Linked DNA regions of Homo sapiens. The protein of the gene in region 2 purifies or fractionates together with the protein of the main gene of each other region. This does not show direct contact. Each region holds a gene or a part of one and is shown on either strand. Other genes may lie near its edges.

The links.
Region 1: the proteins of OR52W1 (region 2) and PROZ purify together in Homo sapiens (affinity purification with mass spectrometry; 2 studies listed by BioGRID and IntAct, with this or other methods). This does not show direct contact.

The regions. Positions count from the first base shown.
Region 1 is NC_000013.11:113,161,646-113,168,686, reverse strand, and holds part of PROZ (vitamin K-dependent protein Z isoform 2 precursor), read right to left. Parts: intron 5,679-7,041; coding exon 5,565-5,678; intron 4,175-5,564; coding exon 4,043-4,174; intron 3,686-4,042; exon of another isoform or gene 3,635-3,685; coding exon 3,567-3,634; exon of another isoform or gene 3,504-3,566; intron 2,590-3,503; coding exon of another isoform or gene 2,518-2,589; exon of another isoform or gene 2,448-2,517; intron 1-2,447. UniProt on the Homo sapiens protein: Appears to assist hemostasis by binding thrombin and promoting its association with phospholipid vesicles. Inhibits activity of the coagulation protease factor Xa in the presence of SERPINA10, calcium and phospholipids.
Region 2 is NC_000011.10:6,194,720-6,200,723, reverse strand, and holds OR52W1 (olfactory receptor 52W1), read right to left. Parts: upstream 1,501-6,004; coding exon 538-1,500; downstream 1-537. UniProt on the Homo sapiens protein: Odorant receptor.

The DNA of each region.
Region 1 (7,041 bases), on a different chromosome or scaffold from region 2:
ATACAAGAATCTCAACAAACCCTATGTGCAAGAAACATGAAAACAATACACAGTATAATTAAATTCAAAATCCATGATAGAGGAAATCTTAGAAAGTTAAAATTAAAAAGCATTTAAAATCTTAAAAGTGCCACAGGTAAGGACATGTGAGGAACAGCAGCAGGGTGATGGGAGCCGTCTTGTGGCACAAGGCAGACAGGAAGGCAGTGGGGCAGGCCCAAGTGCAGAGAGGAGAGGACTGCTGCCAGCCTGGGGCTCTGCGCCAGACGCAATGCCTTTCATAGATGAAGATGAACAAAGACTCCTCCAGACAAACGCAAGAAGGCTTCTTCCCCAGACGCCTCACAGCACAGCAGATATCAAAGGGGCCCTTTAGGCAGGAGGAAAACGATACCAGAGGGAGGCCTGGATTTACACAAAGCAGCAAGGAACACTGGAAAAGGTTATGACATCCCATTAAATATTTATCCGCATTCCACTATATATGTAAGGTTTTTTTCCTTATTCTTTAAACTTCTTTACAGGATACTGTTTAAACAAAAATAATGGAAGTATAGAGTGGCATTTATAACATCTGTAGATGTAAGACCTATGCCAAAACCAGCACCCAGGTCAGGAGGGGAGGAATGGGGCATGATTGCTGTAAGGACTCATGCTACAGCGAGCGGATGTGGCGTCGGCGAAAGTGGAGTGGACTGTGATAGGGTAAAGATGCATTCTCCAAACTGTGAAGCAACCGCCAACAAAGAACCAGAGATGATAAACCAACAAAGGAGAGAAAACAGAATCATAACAATATATAGTTAATCTAACAGAAGGCAGAAAAAGGGGAAAAGAACAGATAAGAAAAATAAAAGATAGCAAGATGATAGCTTTAACCGTAAACATATCGACAATTACAATAAATGTAAAATGGCCTAAATACCCCAATTAAAAGGCAGAGGTTTTTCACACTGGATAAAAATGAAAGCCAATTATATACTACCTATAAAACATGTACCTTATTTATTTTTTAAACATGCACTTTATAAAAATACAAATAGGCTAAAAGTAGAAGATTGGAAAAAGATAAGTCATGCTAACACTAATAATTAGAAAGTAAAGTGTCTATATCAATATCAGACAAAGGGGATTTTAGAGCAAATAATATTACCAGGGATACAAAAGGAGAAAACGAGAAGTTGTTTGAAAGATTAAATGAAATAAAGCATGTGCCCACATAGCACGGGTACTGGCTCTGGAAGTGTTAAGTGTTGCAGTTTTCAACCGTCTAATGCAAAATGCTGAGCCAAGTGAGAAAGTGTTTTTCCAACTTTACCGTGGCGTCGTTCCTGGAACTCTTCATGTGTTTATGAATAATAGCTGCCACTTGTTGAATACCTACCATAAGTCAAGAACGTTATCTGTAATCCTCACTGCACCTCTAGGGGTGAGATCCTCACTTTAAAGGGGATAAAACCAAGTTCGAGAGAAGACGGCACTTGCGCCATCAGTCTGCCAGACTTTTAGTGATACTTCTTCCCTAGGATGTAAGAAACAAGGAAGTTCTAAAGATAATCTTCAACCCTATGTCCTGCTAGGTCACTTAATTATTCTCCTTTTCAAAGTTTGTTTTAGGAAAATTCCATATATTCAGTTAAATAACTTCAGAACAATTTATAATACTGAAGTAAAAAATCTAATAGTATGTAGCCTGCCTAAGTCAGTGTCCTCTGTCTTAAACACACCAGCTGTGTTTAGAGAATGCCTCCTCCCTGGTTATATGGCTCTTAGCCTTGCTGGTATGAGTGCTACGGTTGCAGACTAGAACCGCACCCTCTCTTCCCTTGGGTAAGCTGGGAAGCTGGAGACAGCCTGCAGGTGGTAGAGCCAGACCCTGTCACTACCTATGGAGGACCACTGCACTCTGGGCCTCCCAAGTACCGACCCTCAGCGCACTCATGGGGCAGACAGCGATAGGAAGAACTGTCTTAGAAAGCTTGGGCAGGAAAAGTGATAAAAGATTGAGAGGAAGTTTGCAAAGCTGGTGATAGACCATTCCCGCTTCCATCCCCGCCTTCCATCACTCCGTCTGCTTTGCCTCCCTTCGGTTTCTTCCTCTCCACCTTGGAGCTGGGTGGCTTCAAGTCCTTGAGCTCCATCCTGTTCTCTGCCAGTCCACACAACTGCCAGAATGAGTGGGCTGGGCACAGCTGTCTTGTAAGAGTCGGGTGAAACTGACGGGTGTCACACACAGAAACCTCAGGGGCTTATTACTCACAAGGGGGGCCCCTGAGGCTGTGCCATCCACACGGCAGCCACACTCGGGTACGGAGCATTGTGGACACGAGGGCTGCACCTCAGTGTAAATTCACACCAGATTCCAAAGATTCAGTGTAAAGGAAAAAGGCAAATAACCTCAATAATGTTTATATTCATTACATGGGGAAATAATGACACATATTGGGTTAAATATCCAAATTTCACATGCTTTTACTTACATTATTGTGGCTACTAGAAAATTTTAAATTATGTGGTTTACACTGCATTTCTATTGGACAAGGCTGTTCTGAAGGATATACTCAGGCAGGAGATAATTGTGTTAGAGGCCTGAAAGGCAAGGAAAGTGGAAAATGAGGTAAGTAAATCAAAGCCAGTGTGGGTGGTATAAAACCATAATAACAAAAATCGTAATATCTATTTTGTGAAGATATACAGAAAGCAAGAAAAGAATAAAATACTGGCCAGACAGCAAATGGACCCAGAATGAGGTGCTGGGAATTAGCCTGAGGAGGGAGAAATAGCTGACTACTTGTGCTAAATATGGATGTTTATGTGTCAAGAGTGACCATTAAGTAAACAGAAAGTGAATGATGAGGCCAGGCGTGGTGGCTCACGCCTGTAATCCCAGCACTTTGGGAGGCCAAGGCAGGTGGGTCACTTGAGGTCAGGCATTCGAGACCATCCTGTCCAACATGGTGAAACCCCGTCTCTACTAAAAATATAAAAATCAGCCGGGCGTGGTGGCACATTCCTGTAATCCCAGCTACTCAGGAGGTGGAGGCAGGGAAAGCGCTTGTGCCCAGGAGGCAGAGGTTGCAGTGAGCCGGGACTGGACCACTGCACTCCAGGCTGGGTGACAGATTGAGACTCCATCTCAAAAAAAACAAACCAAAAACAAATGAATGGTTAACTTCTAAACCAGCCAAGGAGGGGAAAAGGAGAACAAAAATGAATGCCAAACTAGAGAAATTTAGTGAACAAAGTAACAAAGCTAGAATGCCAGGCCAGCAGCCGAGAGCAGAGATTTTGAGATGCTTATGTTCTGAGAAAATGACATTGGTAACAGTTTGGAACTGCAGAGGAAAGGTCTTGGGGGCTGTAAATAATGCTGTCCTTTTGTATTAGTTATGAACTCGGCATTAGAACATGGTTGGAAGTGTGAATAGAGGTTGGTCAGTGCAGTCAGTAGCCCATCAAAGTCAGGATGCCTGATTCACTTAGTTGTCAACATTTCTATTTAGGAAATGACAAGTGAGGTGAAAGTCATAACAATAAATTGAAGCACGCGGAGAGCGCTCTGTTACCTGCCACGGGAGGTCCTGTAGATCCGGTGCACGCTTCTCAGAGGTCAGCACCCCGCAGGCACACTGGTCTGCATTTGCGGCAGCAACATGAGAATAAAAATCAGCGCCTTCTCAGCGAATATCGGACTCTGTCTATGGTGTTAACCGTTGCATAATTCCGTCTATGGTACTAACCATTATAATCTTATCCTTAATGCTGATGAATGTGCAGTAATTCACAGACACACAGACTGGAGTTAAACCACCCCTCACAGCACTCATGGTTTAGCTCAGAGTGGTCCGAGCAAGCACTAGTGACAGAAACTGCACTTTCTAGCATGGCCATTGCTCCAGCGTGGAGACGCGGACCACCTTCTGAGTCGTGGCAACTGCTTATCACAAATCCGCGGGCTTCACCCAGTACTACAGAAGGAAGGAGGATGTGGACGGGGTCGCTGGCATTGGAAGCTGGAGGCCGCTGTGGTCTGAGCACTCACCGTGGGGCACACACTGTTTGTGGTCCTCACCAAGCCTGTAGCCCTGAGCACAGCTGCATGTGTAGGATTCCTGTCCTGGGAGGCAGAAGTGTTGACACCCATCAGTCCGCTCTGGGTGACATTCATTTTTAGCTGAAAAGGAAAAAAAAAAAAGGAAATGCTAGCTTGGAAATAGTCATTTTATCACAGCCTTGCACACAGTTCTGTGTGTTGGTCCATGTTCATTTTATCACAGCCTTGCACACAAGAGTTCTGGTGTGTTGGTCCATGTGTTCTCATTCTCTTCAGATCGTTGTCCTCTGTGTCAGTGTTTCCCACATGTCCGTATTTCAGGAATGTGCATGTAGAACAAAGACTCCGTGAGTGAGGCCGGGCGCGGTGGCTCATGCCTGTAATCCCAGCACTTTGGGAGGCCGAGGTGGGCGGATCACGAGGTCAGGAGATCAAGACCAGCCTGGCCAACATGGTGAAACCCCATCTCTACTAAAAATACAAAAATTAGCCAGGCGTGGTGGCGCGTGCCTGTAGTCCCAGTTACTCGGGAGGCTGAGGCAGGAGAATCACTTGAACCCAGGAGGCAAAAGGTTGCAGTGAGCTGACATCGCGTCACTGCACTCCAGCCTGGCGACAGAGCGAGACTCCATCTCAAAAATAAAATAAAAATTAAAAAAAAAAAAAGACTCCATGAGTGATGACACTTCTATTTGTCCTTTTTCCACATGGACTAATCCACGCGCCTGTTTTGTCTGCCGGCTTGCATTGGCTATTCCCTTTAAATTGCTGCTTCTTCAAGGAGGGGACGTGGGATGGGAGGGGGTTAGTGTGACATCGGTGGTGGCTGAGCAGCTGGGATGGGGGCTTTCCACCAAGAGGGAGAAGATTAAGAAAGGGGCACATGGTGGGTGAAGGTCAAAGCCCCCTTTGGTACGTGGTAAATTTGGGGTGTCTGTGAAGGCATTAGCTGGGGCATCAAGGAGGCAGATGGAGCAGAAATCTGGACTTCGGAGGAGAGGGCTCGGCTGGGAGGAAGGTTTTCCCCAGAGAAACGGGCTCCAAGTTGACCAGTGGTGCTGAGAGCGGAGCACGCTTGTTGCTGTAGTTGGCGATGATGGACACTGACATTTGGCGGGTATTTAAGGATATTTGTTTACGTGCTTTGCGTCTTCCCTGTCTGCAGTCTCCCACTGGGAGTCTGGCACTGAGGACGCCTGTGTGTGACCCCCCCAGCCTGTGAGCAGATTGTGAATGGTTGAGGTGGTGGGGGGAGGAGAGGGGCCCCTGCTATGAAAAGTATGGGGGCCTGTCTGGAAGGGGCAGCTCAGAATGCAGCCAGCCCCCGGCGTGGTTTCTGGAGGAGAATCTGGTTGGGATGAGAGGAATCCCCTGGGGTGAGCCAAATCGCGGTTCACACAGGCACCTTCATGGCTACACCTCAGGAGGGGCCCATTGGGACTCTGGCCGAGGATGTGAGGCCCACCTGCCCAGGGAGGCCCTTGGGGGAAGGGGACGGCCGGGGCCTCACCCAGCTCGCAGTTGCTGCCCTCATAGCCGGGGGAGCAGGTGCAGGTGTAGCCCCAGATGCTGTCCTGGCAAGAGCCGTTGTGGAGGCAGGGCTGGGAGATGCACGGGGAGCCGCCTGCAGGAGGAGGATGGGGGTTGGGGTGGTGGTGACAGGAACGGGGACCTGAGCAGGAGGAGGGTGGGGGTGGTGACAGGAATGGGGACCTGAGCAGGAGGAGGATGGAGTGGGGGGTGGCAGCAGGGACGGGGACCTGAGCACCTGAGCAGGAGGAGGGTGGGGTGACAGGAACAGGGACCAGAGCAGGAGGAGGACAGAGTGGAGCAGGGACGGGGACCTGAGCAGGAGGAGGATGGGGGGACGTGGCAGGGACGGGGACCTGAGCAGGAGGAGGATGTGGGGAGGTGGCAGGGACGGGGACCTGAGCAGGAGGAGGATGTGGGGAGGTGGCAGGGACGGGGACCTGAGCAGGAGGAGGATGTGAGGAGGTGGCAGGGACGGGGACCTGAGCAGGAGGAGGATGAGGGGACGTGGCAGGGACGGGGACCTGAGCAGGAGGAGGATGTGGGGAGGTGGCAGGGACGGGGACCTGAGCAGGAGGAGGATGTGGGGAGGTGGCAGGGACGGGGACCTGAGCAGGAGGAGGATGTGGGGAGGTGGCAGGGACGGGGACCTGAGCAGGAGGAGGATGTGGGGAGGTGGCAGGGACGGGGACCTGAGCAGGAGGAGGATGAGGGGACGTGGCAGGGACGGGGACCTGAGCAGGAGGAGGATGTGGGGAGGTGGCAGGGACGGGGACCTGAGCAGGAGGAGGATGTGGGGAGGTGGCAGGGACGGGGACCTGAGCAGGAGGAGGATGTGGGGAGGTGGCAGGGACGGGGACCTGAGCAGGAGGAGGATGGGGGGACGTGGCAGGGACGGGGACCTGAGCAGGAGGAGGATGTGGGGACGTGGCAGGGACGGGGACCTGAGCAGGAGGAGGATGTGGGGACGTGGCAGGGACGGGGACCTGAGCAGGAGGAGGATGGGGGGAGGTGGCAGGGACGAGGACCTGAGCAGGAGGAGGATGTGGGGACGTGGCAGGGACGGGGACCTGAGCAGGAGGAGGATGTGAGGAGGTGGCAGGGACGAGGACCTGAGCAGGAGGAGGATGTGGGGAGGTGGCAGGGACGGGGACCTGAGCAGGAGGAGGATGGGGGGAGGTGGCAGGGACGGGGACCTGAGCAGGAGGAGGATGTGGGGACGTGGCAGGGACGGGGACCTGAGCAGGAGGAGGATGGGGGGACGTGGCAGGGACGGGGACCTGAGCAGGAGGAGGATGTGAGGAGGTGGCAGGGACGGGGACCTGAGCAGGAGGAGGACGGGGGGGCAGGGGGTGGCAGGAATGGGGACTGAGCCTGCTCATGCTGCTCCCCATGCCATCGCCTGGCCCCCAGGACGCTCCCCGCTCCGGATGTAAGGCCTGGCTGCCAGTGCCTCC
Region 2 (6,004 bases):
CATTATTTAGTTTATCGGAAGGCAGGAGATGAGCCTGTAGAACTCGTTTCCTGAGGGCAGTCTGAAAACAGAATCTGGCTCCAGGAGTAGAGAGGGCTGTGATTTCAGACGGGTGCCCAAGCACTTGACTCCAGGGACAGCGCCACCCTCTGCGGCAGTGCCAAGCACTTCCCTCAAGTTTGGGATCTATAGAGGAGCTTTTGTGTGGAAACGTGGGCAGACTTAGGTTGAAATAATGGAGGTGGGGAGCAGGAAAGGGAGTTGTTAGATCTTGTTTATTATGGTCCTTCACTAATTTTTCCTGCATGGTAGTGTAGCCCCCTGACCTCTACCTCCTGCCTCCTCCCAAGCAGAATACATGTTTAAGTCAAAGTCTACAGATGCCAGTGTTGCACATAGGGACTCCACAGCAAGTACCTGTTAAATGATGATAACAGTCATATGCAGTGGGATGAAAATAACATGATCCACACCCCCAGACTCCCCTCCGATTGTCCCCTCACCTCCACTCTTAGGCTCCATTGTTACCACTGGACATTACAACGGGCTTTTTCTGAATGTGAAGGTTTCCAGGAGTCGGTCTCTGATCTGCTTGGTGCGGGCCCCATAGATGAGGGGGTTGAGGGCAGGTGGCAGCAGCAAGTAGATGTTGGAGAGAAGGATGTGCACAGGCTTTGGGACAGTGTGATGACCAAAGCGGTGTGTGAGGTAGGAGAAGAGACCAGGTATGTAGAAGGCCAGAATGACACAGATGTGAGAACTACATGTACCAAAGGCCTTGGCATGGGCCTCCCGGGTAGGTAGCTGCAGCACAGCATGGGCAATGAGTCCATAGGAGCCAGTGATACCCAGAATATCCATACCTGAGATGGCCAGTGAAAGTGCCAGACCATATAAGTTGGTGGCCTGTGTGTTACCCACCACCAGTTCTACCACTGCCATGTGTGCACAATAGGTATGGCCTATGGTCTTGGCTTGGAAGTGCTCAAACTTTGCCACCAGCAGTGGGAAAGGTACAACAATAGCCACAGCTTTCAGTGCCAGGGCCAAGGCTGCATAACCCACACAGGCTTTGGTGACCAGGACAGGGTAGTGCAGTGGACGCCCTATTGCCGCAGCACGATCACAGGCCATGGCCAAAAGCACACCTGATTCCATGGCAGTCAGTGCATGTACAAAGAACATCTGGACCAGGCACACAGCATATGGCACAGATCGGGGCCCAAGCCACAGCACAGCCAGCAACCCTGGGGCTATAGATGTGGCTAAGCCCAGGTCTGTGGCTGCCAGGATGGCCAACAGTAGAAACATGGGCTGGTGCAGTGTGGAGTCTATCCACACCACTGCCGGCAGTGCTCCATTGCCCAGCAGGGCCAGCAGATAAATGGGCCCAAAGACCAGTGTCAGCCAAGTCTGGGCACTTCCTAGCCCTGGAAAGCCAGTCAGTATGAAGAAGTTTGGGTGTAGGAAGGTGGAATTGAGTTGTAGAGTTTCTGCCATTCTGTGGTGGGCACAACTTGAGGGCTCATGGGGGCATGACTCCTGACAGGGAAGATAAGGGGAGAGATTTTGGGGGTCTCACAGTGGCACAAACCCATCCATGGCATACGTGTAGGAGTAGTGCAGGGCTGGGAGGATCACAGGTTTATAACTTTTGGTTAGGGGGGTTTGGATGGATAATTAAGGTCGCAATTCTAGCTAAGATAGGAGAATCCTTTGCTCCTAAAAGTCTATATGTATTGTAGTGGGAGGAAGGGGTAGTGAGGAAGAGGCTGCCTGCTGCAGTGGTTGGTATAGATAGCCTGAGAGAGCCTTCTAATTGGATGTCAGCAGAGGGTGGAGTGGAGATGAATACTTTTCTTCCTCAGGGTCCAAATAGAGTCAGTCTCAGTCTCTATATGAGGAGAAAGCCAGTGCTGGGGGCAGGGTGGGGAATCAGGCTTCCGGCTGTCCTGTCCCTGCCTGTGTATCCTTGGGCAAGATCTCTGGACCTCAGCTTCTTCAGCTGTATAGGCCTGGTGGGTACAGTGATATTAAGGTTTGCCCAGCTCTGAGCAATTGCCCATTCTCAGCACCAACCATCCAGGAAGAGAGGAGGCAGAGTATAAAGAAAGGGAGAAACCGTAGTGGGAGGCAGATGGAATCTGGAGTGAATCTGGGAGCTTGGTGTGGCAAGGGAAAACTTGCTGGGTTTTTGGGGTGCAGGGTGCTTACGTTCTGAACTTGATGCTGAACACCAGCTGGAGAGTTGAAGTTGGGGCTGGGAAGCAACAGAGAGAGAGATGGCAGTACGAAACGGGACTTTTCTTCTCCGTTTCCTTTCCTTCTTCACGGTACAAAAGTGGGTCCCACTAGAGTCTCATTCCTGGCATGCCAGAGCGAGTGGAGGTGACATAGAGGGAGAAAATGGCACTCAACTCAGAGTAGCAGCCATCTGAGGAAGAAGCATCTCTGACATTGGAGGAGGCAGGACAAGTAGATTGACTTAGGTGGGATCCAGCCCACCTAAGAAGCTTAATACATGTTGAATGGATAAATGAATGAGGAAGAAATCACCAGCAGAAGGCTTGACTGGGAAAGATCTCGAGCACTGTGTGTTGGCAGCTTCTCTTCGCTTTAATCAGTGCCTGTGGGGCTCTTTATGTGGCTGTTCTACCTGCTTCCCTCAGGGCCTTTCTCCCTCCCACCTGTGCCACATTAACTCTGTTTTGTATCTCTTTGCTCAGTGCTGATGGGCTGGTGACTCAGGAAGTAGAGTAAGGAGGCAGAGATGGGGGCAAGCCAGGAAAGAGACTATCAGGTGGAAAGATCTGGGCAAGGAACACTTTCTCAGGGAGGTCTTTGCTGGCTCACTGAAGTCCGGGAGAAAATTCCTTGGTTTATTCTTTAATAGCATCTAGCCCACTCTGTTGTAATTTCTTGTCTCTCAATTCCCCACGAGACAAAAAGAGTTGCAGATATTGCTTTTTATTAGCTACAGTGTCTCTACTGCTTACCACAATGTCTGGCATGTAGTTAGCTATGAATAAATATATATTGCTTTTAAGTGTGGGACAGACTGCTAGTCCAAACAGCTTTTGCTGACTAATAGGGGCTCCTACAGTTTCAGGAGCTTTAGATATCCATGAAGAAAAAGAATTATTCACCATCAACCACAAGTCTACTGAATACAGTTCTTTCTATTATAAGGAGACTTAAACTCACCACACTATGTAAAGTCATACAATAAAGACCACAGGGCCTATTGGAAAAATGAAGTTAGGGGCACAACACTCAAAAACTTCATCAGTGACACATTTGAAAAAAAGATGGGCTGGGCACAGTGTCTCACACCTGTAATCCCAGCACTTTGGGAGGCCAAGACAGGAAGATCACTTGAGCCCAGGAGTTGGAGACCAGTCCGTGCAACACAGTGAGAGCCCATCTCTACAAAAAAATTAAAAAAATTAGCCAGCCACAGTGGTGTGCACTGGTACTTCTACCTACTCGAGAGGCCGAGGCAGGAGGATCACTTGATCCCAGGAGTTCAAGGCTACAGTGAGCTATAATCATGCCATGCACTCCAGCCTGGGTGATAGAGTAAGACCCTGTCTCTAAAAAATAAATCCAATAAAATGAAATTGGGCAGAAAGTTGTAATACCAGATGTGAATGGGTGTGGCTCATAACGCAAGTGGTGAACTGAAGTAGCTGATCGATGTTTGAGGTGTGTGCATGTGTGCATGTTGAGCTTTCTTACTCAGCTCAGTTCAGCTGGGTTCAGTTTTCTGGGTTCACCTACTTTCTTGGAAGTGGAGTTACATGCAAGCAAACACGAAATTCACATTATTCTCAGTCCCCTAATACATATGTCAATTGTCTTTGAATAATTTGTATTTTAAAACTAGCATTATAGCAGAACTAGTTGAATCTCTTTTCTGCCTGGCCTTGTGTCATGTGGTGAGAATACAGTGGCAATAACAAGACCCTGCTGCTCTCAAGGAGTTCACAGTCTAATGGACACAGTGATCTAAACAGTTGTCGAAGGGTTGTTAAAGTAATTGCCTTAACTCAAGTCAATACCAGATACGATGGCAGCACAGAGAAAGAAGACTTTCACTCTTGCTGGGGGAGTCAGGGAAATGTCTGAATCATAGTAGTGGTTAAAAGTCTTGTGGGGTTTCCTGTGTACGTGCACTGCTCTAAGCCTTGACCTCACAACAGTCATTTGAGGTGGGCACAATTCTTTCTTCCATTTTACAAAAGAAACTAAGAGACAGACGTTAACTTGGGGAAGGTCATATAGCTAGTAAATAGCAGAGTTAGGATACTAACTCTGTCTGGCTCTAGCATACTTGCTGTTAGCCACTACCTCAAAAATTGTAGCTGAGGTTTAGAACATGAGTTTTTAGAATAGGTGGAGCAAAATGCACCCATTCCTGGGAGAAGGAGTTCAGGAGATTTTGGGATTGGCAGGTGATCCTAGGATTGCTGAATGGAGAGATGTACAAAGAGCTGTAATTATGTGGCAGTAAATGGTGAGCTGTCATCAGTTCAGGGAGGAGAGGAGTACTGAGCAGGTGGGAGCAGTCGGTTAAGAGCCATGAAGGAGAGGGTTAGGAAAAAGTGCTCTTGTCTTCAAGAGAACACTAATGGAACTTTTGACTGCCTTGGACACTTGCTCTTTGTGCAAAGATTGTTTGTAAGGTAAATTACAGAATCCATAAGCCCAAAAAGTCCAAATTTGAAGTCATTGGGTTCTTGGAAATCTACTGTGTTATGCATTTCCCATTCTCCAGTAATCCAAGATACACTGGGAGATATCATAGACTTCGTCTTTAGAAGGTTCCTTGGTTAGTCTCCCAAGCTCCAGTTCATACTTATAGAAGCTATCTAAGCACATCTTGGGAACCAACTGGCTGGTCTTTTCCTGTGACGTTGACCATTAGAGGAGGGGATCTGACACCTGTGATCTGGGGGCTATATACCAGAGCCTGCTCCCCAGAGCAGGGTGTCAGCTCTCTGTGAGGAGTTGGGTGGGGTAGGGAGAGGGGAGGCTTGTTGGATTTCTTAGTTGCTGTTAGACTGACAAGAAAAATAGGATAGGAGGGTTCTGTCTGGAGACTGACTCTGATTTTCTCACATTTTTGGCTAGTGCAGCTACCACCAACATCTATAGAATAGGGTTCTTAGATAACAGCTGGCTCCATGTGGGCCTGTTCTATTGTTTTCCGCTTAAAATGATCCATGAGCAAGAACACATATGAGTAGCTTATTACTTTACATGATAGATTACAGATCAGAAATCTTGGGTCCTCGCGGTGTTGTACAGCACTAAATCCTCTTCTGGAAACCTACTAAAGCAAACTCAATTGTCAAATCCCAATTCCTGGGTCAGTATGAGATCCTTTTGTGACTAATGGTAGCATAGTAGCCCAGGCCTCCTTCACTCAGTTTCAGGAGAGGTAGAGAGACCCTGTAAGATCAGGTTTGCCCTACCCTATGGAGATGTGGAAGGAGTCGTGGAACCACTATGCCCATTCTTCTAGTATTAGTTTTACTCCTCTACTTCATGCTTCCCAGCCCTTCCATGAGCAGGTCCTTAGTATTCCATAAAGCTCTGGAGCACTGGGCATCCCCAGTTCCTAGGAGGATAGTAGATGTGCTTGCATTGAGGTTGTAGATTTGAGAAGGGAATTGTTCTCCCTCTCCATCACAGTAGGATCTTCCAGAAGTCAGATTATGGTAGGGGTATGGAATAGATCACATCTAGTTTTTAATTAAACCTCTTTCGATCTTGTCTACTCTCCTTATCCATGTCTCCTTCCTCTGCAATAGGGTCATTCCTTCCAATCCCAGAATCTCTGGGACTGACACTAACTTTGACCATATATAGAAGTGACTCTATGCATGCGGAGGTCACAGTTGCCATCTTTGTTTCCGGGGCAACGCTATACCTGTAAAATTGGGTTAGGACCCTGATACTCTCTTAACTTAGCAAATCATTCTATTCCTTCAAGAGATGT